2 separate regions of the Homo sapiens genome follow, and region 1 is linked to region 2. A link means that fine-mapping ties the variant in region 2 to the expression of a gene that starts in the linked region. Tissue or cell type: blood mononuclear cells. Region 2 holds a variant in brackets; the other region holds the start of a gene. All regions are shown on one strand. Distances are from middle to middle.

The links.
Region 1: it holds the start of DENND1B, and the variant in region 2 is fine-mapped to the expression of DENND1B in blood mononuclear cells (TOPMed, PIP 0.97).

The regions. Positions count from the first base shown.
Region 1 is chr1:197,770,340-197,782,255 of GRCh38, reverse strand. It overlaps DENND1B (DENN domain containing 1B), which reads left to right and starts at 6,776. Exons shown (of 23, transcript NM_001195215.2): 1 at 6,776-7,117; 2 at 9,324-9,388. The coding sequence starts at 7,101. RefSeq lists an enhancer at 5,559-5,608 and silencers at 5,983-6,277, 6,569-6,768, 6,919-7,428.
Region 2 is chr1:197,728,940-197,740,855 of GRCh38, reverse strand. The region is part of intron 2 of DENND1B (DENN domain containing 1B); the gene reads left to right. It also overlaps the pseudogene RPL24P5. Among named protein-coding and RNA genes, the nearest start is that of DENND1B, 41 kb to the left of the region's middle. The variant G/A (reference allele first, on the strand shown) is at 5,269.

The DNA.
Region 1 (11,916 bases), 41 kb before region 2:
TACGTGGAGTATCTTGTAGGTGGGGTTGGGAAATTATTTCCCATGCAATGCCACATGGTTACACAAACACAGCACTCTTTCTTGAAGTCCAAAGGAGAATCCTCAAAGAATCTCTGAAGAAAATTTGACTCCACTGATTACCATCTGTTGGTGACACTCTGCTTCAATTATTCTTTGTTCTGAACTCCAAGGACTGTTTTAAGTTCTACAATGTCTGGCAGATTGAGGAACAAAGATAAGGGAGAACAAGCAGAAACTGGTCAGAGGTAAGAAAATTTATTTACAATTTTTGGCAAATCACCTGAAAAAGGCAGAAGAAGATCTTTTGCTGTGCTGTATTATTTTTGAGAATTTTACTGTATTTTCTTACTAAAAGTTTAACAGCAAGATATACAAATATCATCATCGACCCATTGAATTTTAGAAATATTTGGATATGTTCAGATTTGGTAGTAAAGGTGTCAAAATTTATCTGAGTTCTTTTGTCCACAAACTGGAAGACAACATTTTTATTAAACTGGATTTTAAATCAACATAGAATGCTAACTCTATGAGCTTTGAGGTGTGAAACAACTCAGAAAGGCAAACTTTCAGGGAAGATATTGATCCCGAATCCCCACCTCCATCTTCTCTTTATTTTAAAAGTATTTCACATGTCTTGTTGAGGGAGATTTTACCTTCAGATTGAAATTCATGATATTGCTGCTAAGTATAAAAAGGACAACATGCCAGGAGGATGTTTTCCTTAACAACACTATCTCAGTCAATATTAAAAGGCAGGTCCTGATAAAATAATTTAAAGATAGTTTCCTAAGAGCTTCAATAAATTCAGTTTGTTAAATACTTTATAACTTTTCTTCTATAATAAATGAAGGTGGTAATACTATTAATAAATTTCACCTAAGAATAGTAATAAGAGGTTGTGCAGAGTTAGTCTAGGAAATGCCTGACTTGGATACATGTTAGCTACAACTCATGAGATGCTTGCCTCAAAAAATTCATTTCTAAGTTAATTGTTTGGAACTCAAAATCTTCATATACATTGGTGAGGCTTATGAGTCTAGTCGAGTTAATTTATACTGAACCTGAAGCATTATTAATAGTATTATTATTTTTAAAAATACCATTCTAGAGTTTACAATAGTGTTTATTATTTCGCATTCAGAAGGGAAAGGAGCTGTCAACTTTAGTAGTCCTGGGTATCAGTAACTCTTCACTTTTGTTTAAGGCATATTACTACAAGGATTCAATGAATAAGTGGTTGGGGTTGGGAAGCCAGGAGTTACCTTTCTAATTGTCATAGTACACTGGAAATCAGGGCAGTTGGCTCACTAAAAGCCCTGAACTTGGGTTTCTCTACACCATTAATATATAGGGATATATAAGTTGGGGACTTTTTGGACCTGGTTTGAGGAAAGTGGACCTTATTAGGTGGATTAAAAAGTTGCAATTAGTCCATTTTACATGACACTATAGTCAGAACCAAGTAATTATCCATTATAGTCTGATCAAAACTTGCATGAAAATCAACTAAAAATTCAGAATTAAGTATTTTTAAAAGCTTGCAATGCATTGAAGAGCAGGCAATCAAGTGAGAATACTTAGGGGTGGAGGATGGGGGACAAATAAAAGTAGCTACAAGAGCCACCTCTCTCTGTAATCCCAGCACTTTGGGAGGCCGAGGTGGGTGGATCACGAGGTCAAGAGATGGAGACCGTCCTGACCAACATGGTGAAACCCTGCCTCTACTAAAAATACAAAAATTAGCTAGGCGTGATGGCAGGTGCCTGTAGTTCCAGCTACTCGGGAGGCTGAGGCAGGAGAATTGCTTGAACCCAGGAGGTGGAGGTTGCAGTGAGCCAAGATCACGCCACTGCACTCCAGCCTGGCGACAGAGCGAGACTCCATCTCAAAAAAAAAAAAAAAAAGAAAAGCCACCTTTCATCTTCATCTTTAGGGTTTTTCCTAAGCTGGATGAACTGGAAGACCATGAACTGTTATCATGGTCTTATGGGTCTTCAGACCCTTCCTAATGTGGGAAATCCAACAGGATACTCTTCATAAAGCTGATACACCCCAAAGGTATTCAAGGACAATTGTCTCAAACAATGGAGCATAGTTAAGGGGAAAAAAGCTTCCCAGAGGATTCATAGCTACAAACCAGGTCTCACATGAATGGTCTGAAGAATTTCAAGCTGAGAATTTAGTGTTTATGTTTCTGAATTGCTAGTGATCCCAAGCATCTACCAGCAGTAAATTAATATCTTCTCCAGAGAACTCATTTTCATTTCAGCTGTCACTCAATTTCTATATATAAAGTTCTAAGGATCACATAACATAAAAAGAAATCACATACATAGAAGAAATCAAGAGACCATAAGTATGAACAAGTAGAAAAAAGATCAGTTAGTAGAAGCAGACCCACAAATGCTTCAGATATTGGAATTTTTAGAAATAGAATTTAAAGTATATATATTAAATATTTTTAATAAATTAAAGAGATGCTGAAAATATGAGTTAAGAGAATACAGATTTGGAAAATAACCAAACAGAACTTTAGAAATAAAAATAATATAAATTAAAAACTAAATGGGTGACTTTGACAGAAAATGAGACAAAGCTGAAGAAAGAATTAGTGAACAGAATATTTTTGAAATTTTCCAGAATACAGCGTAGACAGATAAAGAGAGACATACTATAAAAGAGATGTTTGACAAACATGGAGGGTAGAATAACACATGTGTTATCAGAGTCCCAGAAGGAATGGAAAGAAAGGAGTCCAGAATTTTCCAGAACTGATGAAAGTCACCAATCCAGAGTCAAGAAAATTAAAGAAACCAAGAAACATGGATGAATAAAAATCTACACCTAGATACTTCACAGTGAAACTATAGAAAACTAAAGACAAAAATGAAACATCATAAATGCAGTCAGAGAGAAAAAACAGATGACATTTTAAGATTACTTTCAAAGTTCCAATTGTTATTAGGGAACTTAGAAGACAGTGTAATGATATTGATAACATGCAGAAAGAAATAATAGTAAACTTTGAATTCTTCATCAGTGAAAATATTTTTCAAGAGTGAGGGATAAATAAATACATTCCAACTCAAACAAAAAGGGAAAGAATTTTAGGCAGAAGGAAAGTGATCCTACACAGAAGATCTAAAATGAAAATACAAAAGAATGGTAAAGTTCTGAGTAAATCTAAACAAACATGGACTGTATAAAACAACATTCATAATGCATTTTTGGGGGGATTTTAGTTTTGAGGGGGTTTTAGAGGTTCTTGTATTGTTTGAGAGAGGGTGGATATCCTTGTGAACTCTGGCTTTAATCAGTTAAAATGTACCTATTAAAATTTCTAGGATAACTCCTAAATGAATAGAAACAGAGTAAATAACTTCCAAACTAGAAGAGGTGGGGGCAGAAATGAAAGCATAAATAGTAATCCTAAAGAATGCAAAAGTGAAAGAAAAAAACAGATCAGAAGAAACAAACGGGAAGTACAAAATTAGATGGCAGAAATAGATTTAAATTTATCAGCATTTTTCTCTCTTTTTTTTTTTTAATTTTTTTTAGACAGTGTCTCACTCTGTCAACCAGGCTGCAATGCAGCGGCATGATCTTGGCTCACTGCAACCTCTGCCTCCCAGGTTCAAGTGATTCTGAAGCCTCAGCCTCCTTATTATCTGGGACTACAGGCTTGCACCACCCACCACACCCAGCTAATTTTTGTATTTTTAGCAGACAGGGTTTCACCAAGTTGGCCAGGCTGGTCTTGAACTCCTGGCCTCAACTAATCTACCCGCCTTAGCCTCCCAAAGTGATGGGATGACAGGCATGAGCCACTGCGCCCAGCCTAAATTTATCAACAGTTTTAATACATGCAAATTGTCTAGGGGTTTGATGTAAGAGCTAAAGATGATCAGACTAGATTAAAAATCAAGACTAAAAATTTTAGATAAATTTGAAACATGATGGTTTAGAAAGTTTGAATGTAAAAGGATGAAAAGAGATATCCTAACATCAGACAAATACTATTCAGAAGAAAACTGTTTAGAATCTAAGGCAAAAGTACGATTGGAGGTAAAGAAAGTAACAACATAATGATGAATGGTTGTATTTATTAGGTAGATATAGAAATTATAAACTGATGTGTATATTATTACACAGCCCCAAACTGTGTAAGGTAGAACCTGAAAGAACTATAGGCTGAAATAGAAAAATCTACCATCATGTTGGGATATTTAAACTCATCTCTCCCATTAATTGAATTATGTCAAGCAGATGCAAATTCAGTAATAGAAGATGTCAACAACACAATCATCGTATTTGATCATGGACATATATTTAGAACACTGTACCCCAAAGCTGCAGAATATATATTCTTTACAAACCACATACAACATTTAAGTCTTGAAACATTTAAAAAATTAACTAAATTAATTAATTAATAAGAAATTAATTAATAAATAAAGACCATGTTCTTTGACAACAATACAGACTATGTTCTTTGACTGGTATGGTCCTGAAAACTGTTAATATTAATTGTCGAGTAGGAAATATCATTGCTGAAATATGATCTTGGGAAGATTTAAGACTAATTTGAAGGTTTGCCCTTTGTACACTTCTCTATCAGTCATATGGGAAGTTCTATATGAAATGAGTATTACTAAAGTTATACCATCGATTTCATTAAAGCTATTACCAAGGTAAGTGTATGATATTTGTTTTCTAATTTTTTAACACCTCATGCATGTAGATCATGTACACCTATGTTCCTATCCCTTTTATTTCAGTAATAACAGAACAGATAAATCTCTTCATTATGGTCAGCCTAAAAGCTCACTTAAAAAGATTTGCTTTGGGATGCGAATGTGTAGTATTTCCCTCGATGTACTTAACATAAATGGAATGAAGAACAATTTTATACTGTTCAAGGGTATGACTGTCATTTAAAATAAAATCCCAACAATGGATGAGGAAAACAATTGTATTATTATCTCCTCACACCAAATTAAAAAGTCCTCAATATGGTCACCCCAAGTAGGGTTCCTTTCTTTGGAAATAATTAATTATAATGAAAGGAGAAGTTTGAGAAATTCAGTAACAGTTGGGGCAGAAGTGGCTTTTAGCTTACGAATTTTTTTTTTCAAGGCTTTGGAGTATGGTCACTTATGCAGAAAAATCTTTATTTGGGAAAAGAAAACTTATGTAGTATAGTTTGCCTAATTGTGAAACTGAAATTCACAGAATAATTTCTCAAAAGATAATACAAATTTGTAGCACCTGTTTTACTTGAACATCACACTGCTCATGTGATGTACAAGTAATAATTCCCATTTTACAAATGTAGGAACCGAGAAACTGAAGTGTCTCACCCCGAGTCAAGCTATGACAACACTTTATGATAAACACATTTTTTTTTTGTTTGTTTGTTTCCCAGTTATGGCCCGTCCTCATTTTTTACTAACAGGCCCATGGCTATACAATATTTCTGATCCTGTTGACCAAGTAGTACCCAATTTTGGCAAGAAAGTTTAAGGTTATATAACTGAGTGCAACTTCAGGTTCTCTGACTCTTGAGTTTTTTAATTCTTAAGACTCCTTTTCTGACTTTTATGTCTTATGACTCACACTACATTCATACCACATTTGGTTTCCTCTCATCATCTTAACTTCTGCATGAATAAAGTCTGAAGTAACCACCTTTTGGAAGAAACACTGTGGCTATGTGTCAAGGGTGGCAGTGTTAGCTGGGAGAAGGCCTTTCCCAGAAGATCTCTGTGTAAGAGCCTGGCCTTCCACAGTCATTTGAATGTCCATCATAAGACTTTTCTACCTGTCTTCTCAGTAGATCCTAAATATGAGACAGCAGAGGAGGGAGACAGGCAATATGAGGTAGAAGTAAATAATCAGCATCAGATAGACCTGGTGTGAACTCCAGCTTTGCCATTACTCCCTGGTTTCTTCATCTGTAAAATGCTGATGAAAGTATCTATCACACACCTATGACAAGTACTGGGTGAGAGTGCACATAACCTGCTTCACATGTGCTTTAGGGCTGTGTAAATCAGTCCCTCCCACGCTTATTCAGTGGTGCCCTCTCTGAACTCGCCTAAACTGCCAGACTATGAGGCCTGCGACTATGTACATGTGTTCAAAAGTTAGTCCTTGGTTATCACTGCAGTCTGTGGTATAGGAATGTCTGCCTCCCACATGCGCAGACAAGTGGGGCACTACCATTTGGCTACTTGACAGGGCTATTTAGCAGGTGCACATGTCTGAACATTCCTGAATCAGGAGGGGGTAGCTCTGGATTTCAGAGAGCTGTAAGCAGGCCACAGCTGGAGTGACGCAAGAGCCAGGGGCATCAACTTGAGCTCTGAATTTGTAGTATGAAATGAAAGGAACCCAAGTCCGTGTGTATGTGTGTGGAAAACACTGCAGGTCGAGGTACTTTTCCAGGTACTTCGCCCTTTGTGGGGTTGCAGCCCCGACGCCCTGGAATCTGGACTGGACCCAGAAAGGAAGCCGGTTTGGTTCATGCTGAGGACACAGGGGGCACCTTGCCTTTCTGGCTAGGTGGCAAAGCGGTACGTGGGCCATCCCAGCAGGCACTAGCGCTCCCCCTGCACCCTCTGGCCGCCCGGGCGCGGGGACCTGGCCCCCGCCTCCTCCACAGTCTCCGACTTGCGAGCCGCACGGCCCAGGTGAAGCCGCTGGGCGCGTCCCCGCGCGCCCCTTCCCCCTCCCGGCGACTTCCTGATTTGCAAGAAGGTGCAGGAGCCGCAGCGGGCGGCCCCGGTCGCAGGAACTGAGAGGCCTCAGCTTTGGTGGCGGCTACCGGCGGAGACGGGGGCGGCGGCCACGCCACCGCTGCTGTCACAGAAAGGCTCTGGTGGGTGGGGTGGGAGGCGGGGAAGTGCCGGGGGCGCAGCCGACATGGGCCCGCCGCCACGGCTGCTGTGAGCAGCCTCTTTCCCTGTGTGGCCGCCGGCGTGGGCGGGGACGGCGCGACCCTCGCGCGGCCGGGCTGCGGGCTTCCAGGCCAGCGCGCGGGGGCCGGACGGACAGCCCCACACCGACATGTAACCATGGACTGCAGGACCAAGTGAGTGGGGGGGCCCGGGCGCGTCGGGGGCGGGCGTCCCTCGGCGGCCCCTCCCAGGCCAGCTCGGCTCCTCCGCGCCTCCGCGCTCAACCGGCTCCCCGGGCGGCCGAGGTTGGCCGGGCGGGCTGGGGGTGCGGTCCGGCCCCCAAGCCTCTGGCCGGCCGGCGGGACGGCGCTAGGCCGCAAAGCCTGCCCGCCCTGCGTCCCCGGCCCTCCGTGGTTGGCGCGGCTCCTCCCGGAGAGGCCACTAGCGCCTTGTCGACGCCCGCCTTTCGGGGGACAGGGGAGGCCGGGCGGCCCCTGACACCGCCGCTGAGGGGTTCTCGTGCTTCCCCCGAGTGTGTCAGATGTGACTCTCCTGGGGCTGCCTGTGTGCGTGTGGTGTCCGGGAGGGAGTCAGCGTTGAGGTTAAGAGGTTATTATTCCGAGTGCTCTCTGAGCATTAAATATAACCGGTGTTTTCTTAAGTCCGTTTGTTACTTTTGTCTTGGATGTTTTCTTATGATTCTGCTTATAAAATTAGATTGGTCTCTGGTGTTTCTTTATGCAGCAACTGTAGATGCATGGTTCTTGCAAAACGGTATCCAATTAGAGGGTACTTTTATGTGTGTGCTAAAGTATTTATCAACGACTACTTTGCTCAGGAGATTAGGTAAAAAGCAATTTTAATAACGGTGGTGATTTTGTTTCTAGGTATCTTAGAGGCATGAGTTTTATATTTTTCTTCTGAAACTTAACTTTGGAAAGAATTCCTTTTTACTTCGCTTACCCACCCTTTACTATCTCCTTCTCAAAAAGTTTAAAATAATGCCATGTATATTTGTATTATTGTGAAAGGCCGTTTGAATTTCACAGAAGTAAAACTGAGTCAATATTTAACTTTTACACCTAAGAGAAATTCTAAAGAATATTAGGGAAAGAGGGAAATTATGTAATAGAATTATTTTCTTCAGTGTGTTTGACATCATGGTGGGCAGGGTAAGTGAGTAAAAATAGTATGCTTCTTGACATTAATTGTTTTAAGAGGGAGGAAGTCATCTGAGCCCAGATTATTCCCATTGAAACAAGTTAATAGCGGAAAGGCTAAAAAAATGTATATTTGCATGTTAATTTATATGTCTTGTCACTTCCTATGTTTCCAGATTCATATCTTATAAGAAAAGCTTCCAAAAAAAGAAATGCTTTTTTTTAAAGTCAGAGCTGGCATTCGTTTCTTGAAGGAAGTACATATTAAATACAGCCAATGTACAAAGGCACTAAGGTCTTGTTAGCAGGAATAACTGAGATATTAACACATTGGCCGTTGTGGTAACAGACTTAATCTTTTACCTTATGATGGAACGAGAGATTTAAACAGCAATGTTATGAAGAAAAAGTGTCTCAGTATATTTCAGTTCACTTTTTGAAATTTAACCAATGTTGCTTTGAAATTTTGCAAATATGGCAAGTTAGTAAAAAAGTCAATAACTTCTGAATTAAGCAAAGTAAACTTACAGTTTCTAGTGGGAAAATCTAACATGGAAGCAGATGGCTGGTTTCTCCAAAGATAATGGATAAAAAGAAGGCTTTTTATGTTGCTAGCCTTAGAGCTATGAATAGTTTGCTACTTTAAATATGCATAAGTACAGTAAATACATTTTAAGAAAAGTATATGCAACGTATCACATTCATGGAGCATTATCAATGTTTTATGGTGATCTAGAACTTGGCAGGTGGAACCATGTATTCATCATTTACACTTATATTGCAAGTCCTTTGGAGACAGCCTGAGAACCTGTGTCAAACTCTGTTGGCAGGGTATAATGACACTTAGGGACACTCTGGCTTTTAAATTTGATCCAATAAGATAAAACCAATACTTTGCATTTTTGTAGCACTTAGTACTTAATGAAGTACTTGCACATATGTTATTTGATTTATAATCCTCACTATTATTCTGTGAAGTGGACAAGGCACCTCATAGGTAAGGGAGAACAGTCTCAGCGTTTAAATGCTTTGCCCCAAGTTTCAGAATTCCTAAGTCTCAGCTCTTTTAAGTTGCTCAATTGAGAAAACAGTTTCATTGTTATTTCTACTATACTGTAGTAATACAGTCACGTGAAATGTATTGAGACAAAAACAAGATTAGTTTTAGAATTAAGAAAATACAAGTTTCATGGAGATGTTTATTTGTCATAGGAAATTAATTTAAACTTTTTCCTTTTAGGGCAAATCCAGACAGAACCTTTGACTTGGTGTTGAAAGTGAAATGTCATGCCTCTGAAAATGAAGGTATGTGTCTTCTGTGTTCTGTTATTTGACAAGGTCTCTTTTTTTTGGGACAAGATCTCATTCTGTTCCTCAGGCTGTGCAGTGGCATGATCAGGGCTCACCACAACCTCTCCTTCCCGGGTTCAGGTGATCCTCCCACCTCAGCCTCCCGAGTAGCTGGAGCTACCAATGCACACCACCATGCTCAGCTAATTTTTGTATATTTTTTTGTGGAGACAGGGTTCACCACGTTGCCCAGGCTGGTCTTGAACTCCTGGGCTCAAGTGATCCACCCACCTTGCCCTCCCAAATTGTTGGGATTACAGGCGTGAGCCACTGTGCCTGGCCTGTTCTGTTAATTCTTAAAATAATTGATTGAATCTGTCAAAGCAAGTGTTAATATTGTGGACTGCTGGAACATGGTAGTAATAGGAAAATAATACTACTAAATGTGTATTCTGCATTGAGTGTCTCAAGTTGCTGGTAATAAAATAGGTGTTAAGTCTTTGCCCTGGGATTGTAAAAATCATGAATGTTATCAGTGCAGCTTGAATTTCAGGTGTGTTGTTAAGCCCATATAACTTACAACTCAGCTTCACCATTCGTTGGTAAAGTTATCATTAGTTTTGGTGAAAGGGCGAATCTTTTCATTTTCTTTCATTTATGTTTGGAAATTTAGTGTCTTTTTTTAAACATTAGTGCACATTCTCCTGCTAGTACCAATGGAAACTACACCACTTCCCTTCTGATGTTTCCAGAACGCAGAATGCAGACTGAGTAGCCCCTTCTGTTGGATTTACTCCAATAGCACAGCACTTTTGCAGGGAGGTAAACGATAGTGTGAAATTACTTGGAAGGGTTTCAGCTGTCAGTTCCGTACAATTTCCTGAAAAGATGAGAGCATAATACTTTAATGTCATGATTTTCATCATTTCCCTCCACTTTTGTCATATTGTGTATTGTGCATATGTGTGGTAGGCGGCAGGGTTAGCAGACAAGAATAAGGAATTCTTTTCTTGCCTATTTTCTTTTAATGTGTTCTTGCATGGTATGTCTTTCTAGATACTTAAAGTATATGTCTTTACTTGCTGTGTGCTTAGACCCTGGATAGCATGATGATTAAGCATAGGGGTTTCGTGGAGACTGATTGGCCATCCTAAAGCCTTGGAGGAAAGTCTGCTGACAATTTTAGCTTCAGAAACTATCCAGCAATTACCTACTCTTAAGTAATTTGGAGCTGCACACCTTAAAATAGAGAAGCCCAACCCAGTTGTGGTGAAATGGGCATGGCTAATTTTAGTATGAAGTCACATATTGTTGGCTCCACCAGCCCTACTACTGTACTCCTGGTCTATCTGAACTGCAGCTGTGGTCAGGTTTGTCTATTGGCAAGGAGTGATCCTAGGTTGTAGGGAGCCTTTTCTAGTTGATGAAGTTATCTTTTATTGTCCTGTATGTAGTAAAGTTTGTCCATTTGCATTATTTTGAGCCCCAACCGGGTCCTCTTTGAAGAATGGATATATTAGGTAGAATGGATACTCAAATGGATACATTATGTTTTCAGCTCCAATTTAATTCTATTCTATAGTGGTTTATGATATAAGTTAATCTAAAAAATATCTACCACAACATTACCGAAGGTGCGTGAAGTAACGCTCATCTGATATTGCTTGTAAAGGCGTGGCACGGTGGCTCACGCCTATAATCCCAGCACTTTTGGAGGCCGAGGTGGACAGATCATCTGAGGCCAGGAGTTCGAGACCAGCCTGACCAATATGGTGAAACCCCATCTCTACTAAAAATACCAAAATTATGCAGGCATGGTGGCCTATGCCTGTGATCCCAGCTACTGGGGAGGCTGAGGCACGAGAATCAGTTGAACTGGGGTTGTGGAGGTTGCAGTGCGCCGAGATAGCACCACCACACTCCAGCCTTGGTGACCAAGTGAGACTCTGTCTCAAAAAAAAAAAAAAATCTATATAGATATATAGATATATTTATAGATACATATATTTATAGATATATATTTATAGATATATATTTATATATATTTATAGATATATATTTACATATATATTTATATATATATTTATAGATATATATTTATATATTTATAGATATATATTTATATATATTTATAGATATATATATTTATATATATTTATAGATATATATTTATATATTTATAGATATATATTTATAGATATGTATATTTATAGATATATATTTATAGATATATATTTATAGATATATATTTTTATATATATTTATAGATATATATACACACACACACACACAACAGGCTAATTTCACTTGGAAAATATGGATTCTCTAATTTTAAATGTGTATTAAAGTGATCTTGTTAAAAGATCAATTTGCCTTATATAACACCCAATCTATGCATGTGTCAGAGAGATTGTGGTCTTCTTATAAAGGCTTTTGAGTGGTTTACTCCCTTCTTCCTCTTTTTGCTCTTTTCCACTTTTCATGAGCTAGTTATTCCAGTTTGTATCTTCTACTTCTGCCCTGCTTTAATATTACACCTTGTC
Region 2 (11,916 bases):
AGTGCTTCATAAGTATAGTCTTTTCTTCAGCTTGTCCTTCATACCATTGATAAACTGGACTTTAAAGAACTTATTAATGAAGGTGGCAATTTAGTTCTGCCTGAACCAACAACTAGTTATATGATCTTGCATAAATCATTTTTCCTTTCTTGACTCAAGTTCCTTCAGGTAAACAAAAGCTATAGACTATCCAAAAGCCCCTTGTAATTTAAACATTCTGTCATTTTAATTGTATTATTGTTTAGTTCTTCAACTACATTATCAACTCACTGAAGCAAGGATTTCATCTTCCTTTTGATAGTTTTCAAAATATATTGTGTAGCATATTCGATACAGTAATAGAAATTTGTCTACAACCTCAATTCTCAAACCTTGACTTTCTGAGACTCAGTCTTCCCCATATAGGGATCTCTTGCTCATAATTCCTTTTTTATTCATCCCTCTGCCTTTTCAAATCATTCAAATAAAAGACTTGCCAGGGACCCACAAGGCTCCATATAACTGGCTCAAATCCCCCTTGTTTACATTTCTAACCTCATCCTTTCCCACTTTTCTCCCTTGCTCTCTTAACTGCAGCCACACTGGCTTCTTGCTATCCCTGGAACAACATCAAGCATGCTCCTTCAAGGGTTTGCATTTTTTGTTTACTTCTAATACACTTTCCCAAGATATCTGCACAAGTAATTTCTTTACCTTTTTCAAGTTTTTGCTCATTGTCAGTGAGTCTCACTTTAACCAACTTAACAGAATTAAAATCGCACTCTCCTTCCTTTTGCGCTCATAATTAGGTTATATGCCTGCCCAGCCCCAAATCAAACACAAGTTCAGGGCTGTAGTGATTGTCTTTGCTGATGCAAAATTATATTTGATAGTGCAAAATTTTCATAGGGTAACTGAAAGGAACTGTTAAGAATATCTTAGCACATTACATATTCTAATTTAGAGGTAAAGGTCTGATTTCTTAGAAATTGGTGGAAGCATTTTAAGACTCAATTATGTTTTATTAAGATGAAATCATTTGCTTATTTTCCATCTGTATATCTTCTTTGGTGAAATGTCTGTTCAGCTCTTTCTCTTATATTTTCTTTATTGGGTTGGTTTCTTATTACTGAGTTTTGAAAGATTTTAATATATCCAGGATACAATGACTTTGTTGGATTTGCATTTTTTTCTCCCATCTGTATTTTGTCTTTTCATGCTTTTAACTAACATTGTCTTTCACAGAGAATAGTCCTTTCTTTTGATCAGTTTATCAGTTTTGTTTTTATTTTCATTTAGAGTTCATTTAGATTTTCATTTCCTTTTGATTTCTTCTTTGACCGTTGGGTTATTTAGAAGTATGTTATTTAAGTTACAAATATTTGGGGATTTTCCTGTGATGTTTCTGTTATATTTTGATAATGTAATTCCAGAGAATATCATGGTATGGCTTGAATCCTTTTAAATCAGTTAGGACTTGCTTTATGGTGCATTATATGATTTCTTCTCGTATATGTCCCATATGCACTTAAGGTTTTGTTTTAGATTACAGTTAAGTTATTTGGAAACAGTTTGAACATTTGAGGCTTGCTTTTAAGCTTTGGTAGGTGAAACCAGAGTCATCTTCAGTCCAGTGCTGATTTTGTCCCACTGCTAAGGTGTTACCCTCTGAGTACTGTACAGGATACTCTTGTTGATTATGAGGTTTTCCCACTCTGGGTGGTGTGAATGTCAGCTGATCCTGGGATTTCCCCCCCATTTCTTTTGGGTGATTCTTTCCTCAGTGTCTGGTAGTTTCCTCATATGTGTGCACTGATCATCAGCACTAAAGTCTTGGGTGGGTTGGTGGTGAACCTTCTGCAGCTCTCCAGAGCTCTATTCCTGTGCAGCTTCGTCTCTGTTCTCTTTGTGGAGTCTAGATGCTTTGGCCTTCCAACCTCATCTCAGGAAGACCACTGGGCTCTGCCTGGGTTTCTCCCACCTTGTGCCACATCCTGGAAACTCCAGATATTAAGACCAATTGTAAGGCTTACCTTGTTTGTTTTATCTCTGTCAGGGATCACTGTCCTGCATTTACTAATGTCTGAAAATTGTTTAATGTATTTTTTTAGATTTTTAGTTGTTAGAGAGAGAGCAAATACAGTTTGTACTTTCTCTTGGCTGGAAGCAGATGTCCTGTTTATGGATGTAAAAGTGCTGCTTTAACATTCTGCATCTATGGTTAGAAGAAAAGCTATGGTAACTAAGTACATGGGTAAATAATGTTTGGGAATATAGTTACCATGGAAGTTCTGAGGATCTTCTGTCATCTTTCTGCCAAAAAGTGATTCTGCATCAGCATCTTCCATGTTGTGTTTCACAGTTAATAACCCAAGTCTTCTATGAGAAAGAAACTGGCCAGATTAGGTCATGTGTTTGACTTATCAGCTCTGGCCTGAGGTCACATTCACCAATTGTGGATGCAACTACTGAAAACCCACCCTGGGTATAAGATGTAGTTCCCAGAAACGAGGGAATTGTTGTGACCTGGCTGTCATTCTCTATGTGGATTTAATGTTGATATTTTTTGGCTTTGAAAGGAAAATACTTCTATGTCTAAATGAGAAAAATAGCACCTTAAATTCAAAATTCAGCATTGGTTCAAAATCATTTGTCATGAAAGCTTCTTTTCCAGTTATAATATTAGATACTCCCCTTTGTCCTGTTATATAACAGAGGGTACTCATGCATGCTAATTCATACTGGATCAGTGACAGAGAGGAGAAGAAATGTAATAAACAGGTGTCAGAGAAATCTGTGTAAATACAGTTGAAGGGGAAAGTAAATAGGGACAATAAATTATAGGAAATTAGGAGGCAATCAAAACCTGCGGGAAGAAAATGAGCTGGGTTATCTGCTTCCAGGTCAGATATCTATGTTACCCTCTCCTTTCTAATAAAATTTCAGCATAATACTGGAAATTTTATCTTAGAACTAAGTAATGCTTTATTTCCTCAAGGTGATTGGAAAACACAGTTCTACCAGACTAAAGGGAGATGTGTATTGTAACTCAACAGGAAGACATAGCTTTACTTGTTTTTCTTTTTTTGAAGCAGAATTCTAAGTATTTATTTTTAAATTCACCAATTTTTACATAATTAGAATCTTGAGGCTTCCCTACCTGTAGTAAATTAGATCCTGGATACCTATGTGAATGTTTTTCTTGTCTAGCTAAGAAAAGGCCTAAAAATGAATAAGAATCATTGTTGCATTCTCACCGTAATGATTAAGTAGGAGAATCTCCTATAATGCTTAGTAGATAGAGGCAAACAAGTCTAATAGAGTGCAAAAAATCTCCTTGTTTTCAGGGGCCTGTGGAGTTTTGTCATACCTCCAAGATGGAATGTTTAATGTTGCTAGACAGATGTCCACAAGTGTTTAGAAAGAGCTGCTATTCAGTGTTTGTCAGTATGTGATTTAGAGCTATAGATGATTTATTGAGAAGTCAGGATCCTGGGACATACTTTGATTATTTTAAGGATGGAGGTGGGAGTGTAATCTACATTTTGGAAAAAGTTTCCCAGGTGATTGTTATGCATCTGAAAGTTTGAAGCCATTGTCTAAAGGAATAGGGCTATGGTGGTGCTTAGATCCAACCACTTCGACATAGGGCAGATGATTTTCCCACTATTCTGTTGGAGATGTTGCTGTCAGGTTTATTGGTGTGCTGCCTTATAGCTGATTGTAGGAAAGGAGCAGTGTCTCTGATATGCCCTATGTGTGCAATTGGAAGAACTGGGATAGAGTTAGGAATGGATGAGGGCTTATCAAAGATGAAGTATGATTTAGACTCAGAATAGGCTTTTTTATGTGCAATTAGTCAGTCTTCAGTGATTTTCAAGAGACATAGCAATAGTTTTGATGTCTTGCATAAATGCTAGTATTGAGAAATCTCATTTATGAAGTAGTCTCAAAGAGACATTCAAAAGAATAGATGCTTGGGTGTGTACTCAGCAGTCGCAAATAAAAAGGAAGCTGTTTTCAGAATGAGTGGTATAACAAAAATCTGAATAGCAGTCTAAGAGAAAGGCAAGCAAGATCAGTAGAGCCTTGGGGCTAATGAATAGACATTCCAGTACAACAGGAATGCAGTATGGGCATTTGTAAGGAAAGGTTACAGTAACAAATTTATCACAGATTATCTCAGGGATGATTTTTATGACATACATAGAATTTATTATTTTAATTTAAAACATAAGAGGCTGTGCATGGTGGCTCACACCTCTAATCCTAGTGCTTTGTGAGGCCAAGGTGTGAGGATTGCTTCAGGCCAGGAATTCAAGACCAGTTTGGACAACATAGTGAGACCCTGTCTGTACAAATTATTATTATTTTTTAATTAGCTGGGTGTGGTGGCACACGCCTGTAGTCTTAGCTATTTGGGAGGCTGAGGCAGCCTCAACTGAGGCTGCAGTAAGCTATGATTGTGCCTCTGTACTCCAACCTGAGCAAGAGAGCAAGATCCTGTCTCGATAGATAGATAGATAGAGAGACAGACAGACAGGTAGAAAGAATTGGGCAAACCATTTAATCCCAAGTCTCAAAATGAGTAGATCTTATGTTATCTCTGACTCAAAATTTTTGCTATTCAAGTTCAATAAAAGTTGGAATCTGCAGCTTAAAATTGAGCTTGAAATCAAAAGAGTGGGTTGTTTTGCAGTATTCCAACCTATATTTTCTTTTTTTTTTTTTAAGTCCAATATTTATTTAAAAATCTAATCTGCCAGTTTAGCGTTTTCCACCAACTCGAGAACTGAAACTTTCACGGGCTTCACAATCATTTACTTAGGTGCTGCCTTTGTAGGTGCCTTAACAGCAGCCATTGCAGTGTTTTTAGATACTTTGCTTAGCCTTTTTTGCTTCCTTAGCAGCCCTGATACCTTGTTCTCGTTGAGCCTTTCTAACTTCAGGTTTCTGATTCCTCTTGGCCATTATATCAGCAGGAGAGGCACCTGTAATAGCCCCCTGCAATTTGACTGCTCGGCAAGTTCTTTTCTTTTGAATTTCTTCCAATTGTCCCTTTTTGTGCTTCTTTCTGTAGAGGACAGTCCAGCTTATCTGCCGAGGATTCCCCCTGGAAAAGTACGCCGATTCGCATTTTGCATTAAGAAACTGGAAAACTTTCCTGTCGGTCCTGGCGTAGCGCCTCCCGTGTCCGGGGTAGACCTTGTACCGGCTGAAACCGCATAGCTCGACCTTCATGGCGGCAGCTCCACGGGAGGAGAAAAGATGGCCCCAACCTGTATTTTC[G/A]AGTAATACCCTTTAGAATTCATAAAAGTCTAAGAACACTTTGTAAATGGAATGTTTCATAGTTCACACTAAAGTAAACATAAACTGTTAAGCAAAACTTTAGATCACTTCTTCTAACAAAGGAAATGTACCCGAGAACCCATGAGAAGTAGCTTCAGAGTATTTTTTTTTAACAGTGAATTCTCTGAGGTCTTGGACTTTTAAATTTTATTTAGTTTAATTGCCAAAAGCCAAGGTGGAGCTGTGTAGCATTCTGAGGAAATAAAACCACTTGAAGCAGAGGTATAGTAGAATAAAGCCATTCTGCCTCCAGTATTTGGGTGGATGTATTTGGTACTGTAATCATTTTACAGATTGCTAATTCATTGATGTAAAAGATACTCAATGGTAGGCATGTTGGACCCATTCAATATTGTTTTTTGTACCTTTCTGTTAACTTTTGTATTATTCATATATAATATAGATTTAACCAAATCTATTTTCTTAAAATTGCATATTATTGTTTTATGAAATGTTCTTTTAAATTTTGTTAAAATTTTGTCCGCTTTTTCTACAGAAGTAGGAATGAAATATTTAACATTTTCTGCCAGTTCTTACTTATCCACTGTGTTCCAGAGTCTTTAATTTAAATATTTTTGTTTGCCAGGCTTAGATTTTCATGTGTCTATTAAAAGAGTAGGAACATACTCCTCCATGCCAGACATCTGCTATGTATAAGCATTGATTATTTTCCCCCTTATGAATAAATGTATTTCTTTTGTTAAGTTTGTTGTAGGTTAAAAAAAAAGCATATTTATGTTTCTCCTAAAATTTGGGAAATCAATTTATATTACTCTATGGAGTATGTAACAAATGATGTATTCTTTAATTCTGAATCCTGTATACAGTAGTTACACCCTTATCTTTCATTAATTGCTGTCTGTTTGTAGGGTTTTGAACTATTCTGATTATTTTGCAAAGTTTTTTTTTTTAAATTACGAATGTAATGTATTGCAGTCAATTTTGAAAGAAGGAAAAAGATTTTTCTTTTTATACCAATAACACAAAACATCTATTTTTGTGTATTCCTTTTTAGATTTCAATATGAGCTTATTAAATGTGGTTGTAATCATATATAGTTTTCACTTAATTTTCAATATTTGTTGTTGCTATTGGTTTAAATTACAAAATATTTCATAAACTGCAGCAGTCCCCAAAGCCCCTTGTAAATATTCATGAACTCAACCATAACTTAATATACTTGAGAGAATTATCTTTCACTACCATCATATGACTGAATTTAAATTTATCTAATGTGTTTAACTTTTTACAGGTTAAAAAATTTACAGATAGTTTTTATAAGAATGGTTTGGTTTATATACTCTTTTCATTTCTAAGTTTTAATCAGTTATCTACTTTTTAGTTTACTGTTTCTCTTCTGTTCAATATTTTAAAACTTATTCAGGAATATGAAAAGATATGACAGTTTTATTTTGACTTCTGCATTTTGATTGGGTCCTTCAGTGAAAAATACAGTAGCAGAATTTCTAATGATAAATATTTAATGTAAATACTGCAAATAAAATATAATTTCTTGTAATTTTTTGAATGTATCTTTTAGTTGCACAGATTTTTAAATGCAAGAGATTAGAATATCATAAATAAGCCTGTGTATTATTTTAAGAGCACGTATAGAGGAAGGGGTTGTATGTTGGTAAAATACATTTACTGACCCATGTGTGAATTGGTGACCAGGATTGTTAAAGCATTGAGTTCTAAAAGTTTTTCTCTTATCTTTATGTTCAACAATAGAAAGTTTTACCGTATGGTCAAATAACATCTTCATCAGGTTCTCAACAGGATACCTTAGTTAATTTTCAGCTGAGTGCTTGACAGGATTTTCTCTTTGGCTAGCTGGTTGGATGAGAGTCTAGACACTGAGAGGCCAGGCTTTCGTGGGGCCTCACAATATCATTATTGTGCATGTTGAGTAGGAGCAGCTTCCTCTGATGTAGGGGCTCCATGCCCAAACAACGAAGACAAAGACAGAGCTTTTGTTCTCGAAGAGAAGAGCTAATCCGACTGCTGCACACTGTGAAAAACCTTTTATGAGAGAGGAAAAAAAACTTTCCTGGAAGGTGAAGGGTTAGCAGTTTAACCTCTGACCGTAAAATAAGCTGGTAAGGGGGAAAAAGTGTTGGGTAAGGTAGAAGAATAACAGGAGAAACATTCATCAAGGTTTGTATGCTGTGTTTATAAAAACAGGTTAAGCAAATAACTGTCAGGGGTGGATACTTGAGGTCTAATAATACATGCATATTTCTAATTTTTTTTTGTGCTTATTCTTAAACATAGGTGTTTAAACTTCATAATTTGAAGAGTGTATATTGCAGACCACACTATAAATGCAGGAAACAGTAGATGTCTAGTATTTACTCTTTTTCCTAAAAAGCTCCATTATAGACTTCTGTCAAGTTCTGAATATTTATTTTCTTGTTGTGTGAGTACAAAATCTTGATCCTTTTTCTTCATTGTTTTTTTCCCCAATTTCCTTGTTTAATATGATCATGTTTGTCTATAGAAATAAAGAAGTAGGACACTGCATATCTGCGGTACATAATTAAGACTCTTTCCAATTTGGTATTTGGCATTTTGATACCTATTCTGTTGATACATAGGTCTGGTGGGCAGTGTTATTATACAACTCCTTGGAGGAGATGGTTGCATCTTAGTGTACAAAGAATCCGGAGGCTCTGTCTGATCTTATATTGGCATTGTCAATACCAAGAATGTAGTTACAGTCCATTTAGAGGTGATGGAAGTTAAGTTGCTAGTAACTGTGTCATCTGTCTGCTTTTATTTACCAACCTGGACTAATTGCTTCTCCTCTTGTCAGTCACATATCAATCTTGAGCAATAATTAAGGTTTTATGCACTTGGGCTTCTTGCTTGGATGTATTAATGTATGTAACTTATTCCTGAGAATAACTATGCATATGGGGAAGCAGCAGCTTATATTGTATTATTTGAGTCATATTCTAAGGATCAGTCTGCCATGGTGTCTTTTAACTAACTTAATGTTTCTTCTATTATTCCGATTCCCTTTGGTAACAATACACATTTCTTCCTGTAGTTACCCAGTTTCACTTTTACCATGACAGAAAATGAGGAAAGGAGATAGAGAAGGTGACAGAGAGGAGAGATTGTGCTGGCCATTGAGTGATAATGAGGTAAGGGCAAAGAGATAAGTATAGAAAATAGAAGTTGAGAGTGAGTTGAAGGAAAGAAGAACACGTGAAACACATAGGTGGGCCAGTTAGGAATGGGTGGTGAGCTGTTGTGCAGCACTCTTAAGTTTTGAACTAATAATTAGTTGACCATAAATGTAAAAATTTCTTAAGGAATTACTCTTTTAAGACAGAAGTATAGAAGGATGGCATTACAAAACAAGTGACCAGACTTGGGAAGGTCCTGGGTGAGGGGAGGTAAATTTATATGAAGAGAAAGAAAGAGCCAGTAATAACCTACCATTTTGCTTAATGCATTACCTCTGTTCACTATGGTCAAATTTCTGCATCAGTATCTCAGCATTTTTTCCATCTCGCCTTACAATGATGAATAAAGTGATAGCGAATAGTGATAGTGAATGCATATAATGATATAGTGAATATATGTAATCTCCACTCATCCTATCAACATCTCTCAAGGTGGGTACTGCTATTATCACTACTTTACATTGGAGAAAAGTGAGGCACAGAGTGCTGTGTAGCTTGAGAAAGATCATGTATAGCAAGCTTGTCCAACCTATGGCCTGCAGGCTGCATGTGGCCAGGACAGCTTTGAATGTGGCCAAAAAATTCATAAACTTTCTTACAGCATTTTAAAAGTTTTTCCTTTTTTTTGCTCATCAGCTATTTTTAGTATATTTTATGTGGGGCCTGAGATGATTCTCCTTCTTCCACTGTGGCCCAGGGAAGCCAAAAGATTGGACGCCCCTGGTGTATAATGAGTGAATGACAATGCATGGCATGTCTATATGAAGTTTGACTTCAGTATCCAGCCACGTAACTACCATGCCGTGAATGCTTTAAGAATTCACTGAAGATATAATTATATACTACTGAAAGTTTTAGACTTCAAATGATAATCCCCCAACTCTTTTATTGTTTTACTTCCTTACTACTTTTTTTTAGGACAACCTAAATGGGAATTAATTGCTCACTTTCCTAGAGGATAGACTAGTATTAGAATATACAACAAATATAAGCATATTTTTGGTCTGAGGTCATGAATTTCAAATTTATTCTTTTTCTTTCAGTTTGTTTTCCTGCTATAGTTTCTCAGCCAATAATTATTTTTCTAAATGTGTGATTCTGTTTGTTGTTCCAAAGGACATAATTCTTCTCTTTATGAGTTCTTTGCTAATCTGTTTTAATCCTTTTGGATGTCTCATTTTCTCATTGTTTCTTACAAGTTGTGATGTAAATACTCTCAAGAAGTTACCAGAATAAAGTAGTGTCTGCTATTCCTCGAAACTTTCTAGTAGCCAGTATCCTCCCAGATTTCAGTTGTCCTTTATGTTGAATCATGAAGTTGTCATATGGTAATATCAACATTATGGGCTCTAGTAAGCTAATTTTTAAAGTGATCAACCCTATTCTGAGATTGTATTTTCTTTTGATAGTGTGCCTATAAAATTCAGACATCTCAAAAATGTCAAATAATATACATATATAATTTATATATGTACCAATTCTGATTAAACAACTTGTGTCTAACTTATTTTTTTAAAAGTTCTTAAGGTCAAGGAAACAGGTTTAATAATGTCCATGTTCATTTTCTTTTAAAATGTTAACCTTAGAATCTGCAAAATTAGGATTAATTTTCCTGCATTTAGTGTGGCACATTTGAAAAAAATTAGATAAAAACTATTTTCAGTCTAAAAGCCACCGTAACAGATTAAAAAATTCAAGTAGCCCTTTACTTTAAACATGTGATTAACCGTAAAGAATTTTTTCTTTTCCAATTTAAGTTCCCATGTCATAATACAGAGATAAAAAATAATGGCCCCCTGACACACCTTATTTGGCTCACATGGTATTCATGAAATGTTTAATTATTTTTCCCAACTTAAAAATTAGGTGATTTTGTTTTCATAAATATTCTGGATTTTCTTGAAAAATCAAAAGTATCTGTCAACACTGGGCCCACATTCCACATGGATGGAGCTGAATAATGGTTGCTTTTTTGGGAAGGGGAATGGGATCTATTTTTTACTACATGTCCTTTTATAGTCTGTCTTTTGTAGGCTCACTCTACTCATTTTTATTACCTATATATCCTAAAGGCATTTAACCTTGAAATCTCCCCTTTGTCTTTTCTACCTGTAAAAAGGGACTATATTTGTGTAATATATAAGGTATAAATAATTATACCTTGACTTTTTCTCAGGTTTTAAAGAAAATCTTAATTAGAAAACAAGTTTTATACCATACATAAAAACATTATTTTAATCTGTTTTTAAAATTCTTTGTGATATACCTCTGGCTCTCAAAGTGTAGTCTAGGGGTCTGTGGCGGTTCCCTGGAGTACTTCAGGAGTTCTGTGAGGTCAGAACTTTTTTCGTAGTAGTGAGGCATTATTAGCCTTTTTCGTTCCCATTTCTCACAAGTATATGGTAGATTTTTGCATAGGCTTCAGGACATGATGAAGTTATAACTCTGATGACTAATGAAGTGTGTACTTGAAGATTTTTGTGCTTTACTAATTTTTAAGTTTTGATTTTTAATACATAAATGTCATTTACTATAACTCACCTAAACAAAAGTTCTTTGACGACCTCAGTGATATTTGAGAGAATAAATCAGTCCTGAGACCAAAAAGCTTGAGAGGTACTGTGCTGTACATTATGGGGGCTAACTAAAAACACGTCAGTGGCAAATGCCCAAGGATAATTTGTATAATTACTATTTATTCTACATGATTACTATTTAATTGCCTATTTCTTTCTTGAAGTATGGGGCTTTCTTAATTAGTAATAGCTTTACTCTGCTCATTTGCTTGTTATCTTTAGTGAAAATATGTAGTGAAAATAAGGGCAGATCACTTCCCTCTCTTTGGTGTTAAGGATTACTTGATTTATTATATTACCTTTAAATCAGAATTGATCAGGTTTATGTTAGGGTAAGCCAGCTACTTGTTAAAATAAGCACATTAAAATAAGCAAATAAAGTTTATGACATTTACTGTGAAAAATTGATATGATAGGGAATAATTTTATTTGCATTATATATATCCATTGAATGGAAAGAATGGAAAATATACTCAATAAAAAACTGAAAAAGCTGCCTTTATGAAGTGTACATTAAAATTTGAAACATGATTCTGGCTTTTAGGAGCTTTGTTTAAATGAGGAGACACAAATAAGATGGTTTGGTAGCGATGGTTATTGTCTGGAAGTGGGATAGTCTGTGTGGTTGTAGTATTTTGGGAAGGTCTCATAGCATAGATCAGGAATAATGTATTGATTTTAGAGAGACAGAGAAAAGTGAACATAGGATTTCAGAAGGGGGTGCAGCATGTGTTGGAGTATAAGTAAATCCTTGAAATTGGGAATAAATTTTATTTATGTGAAAAGACACTGGGATTGAGTAGAAAATTTGCATTGGA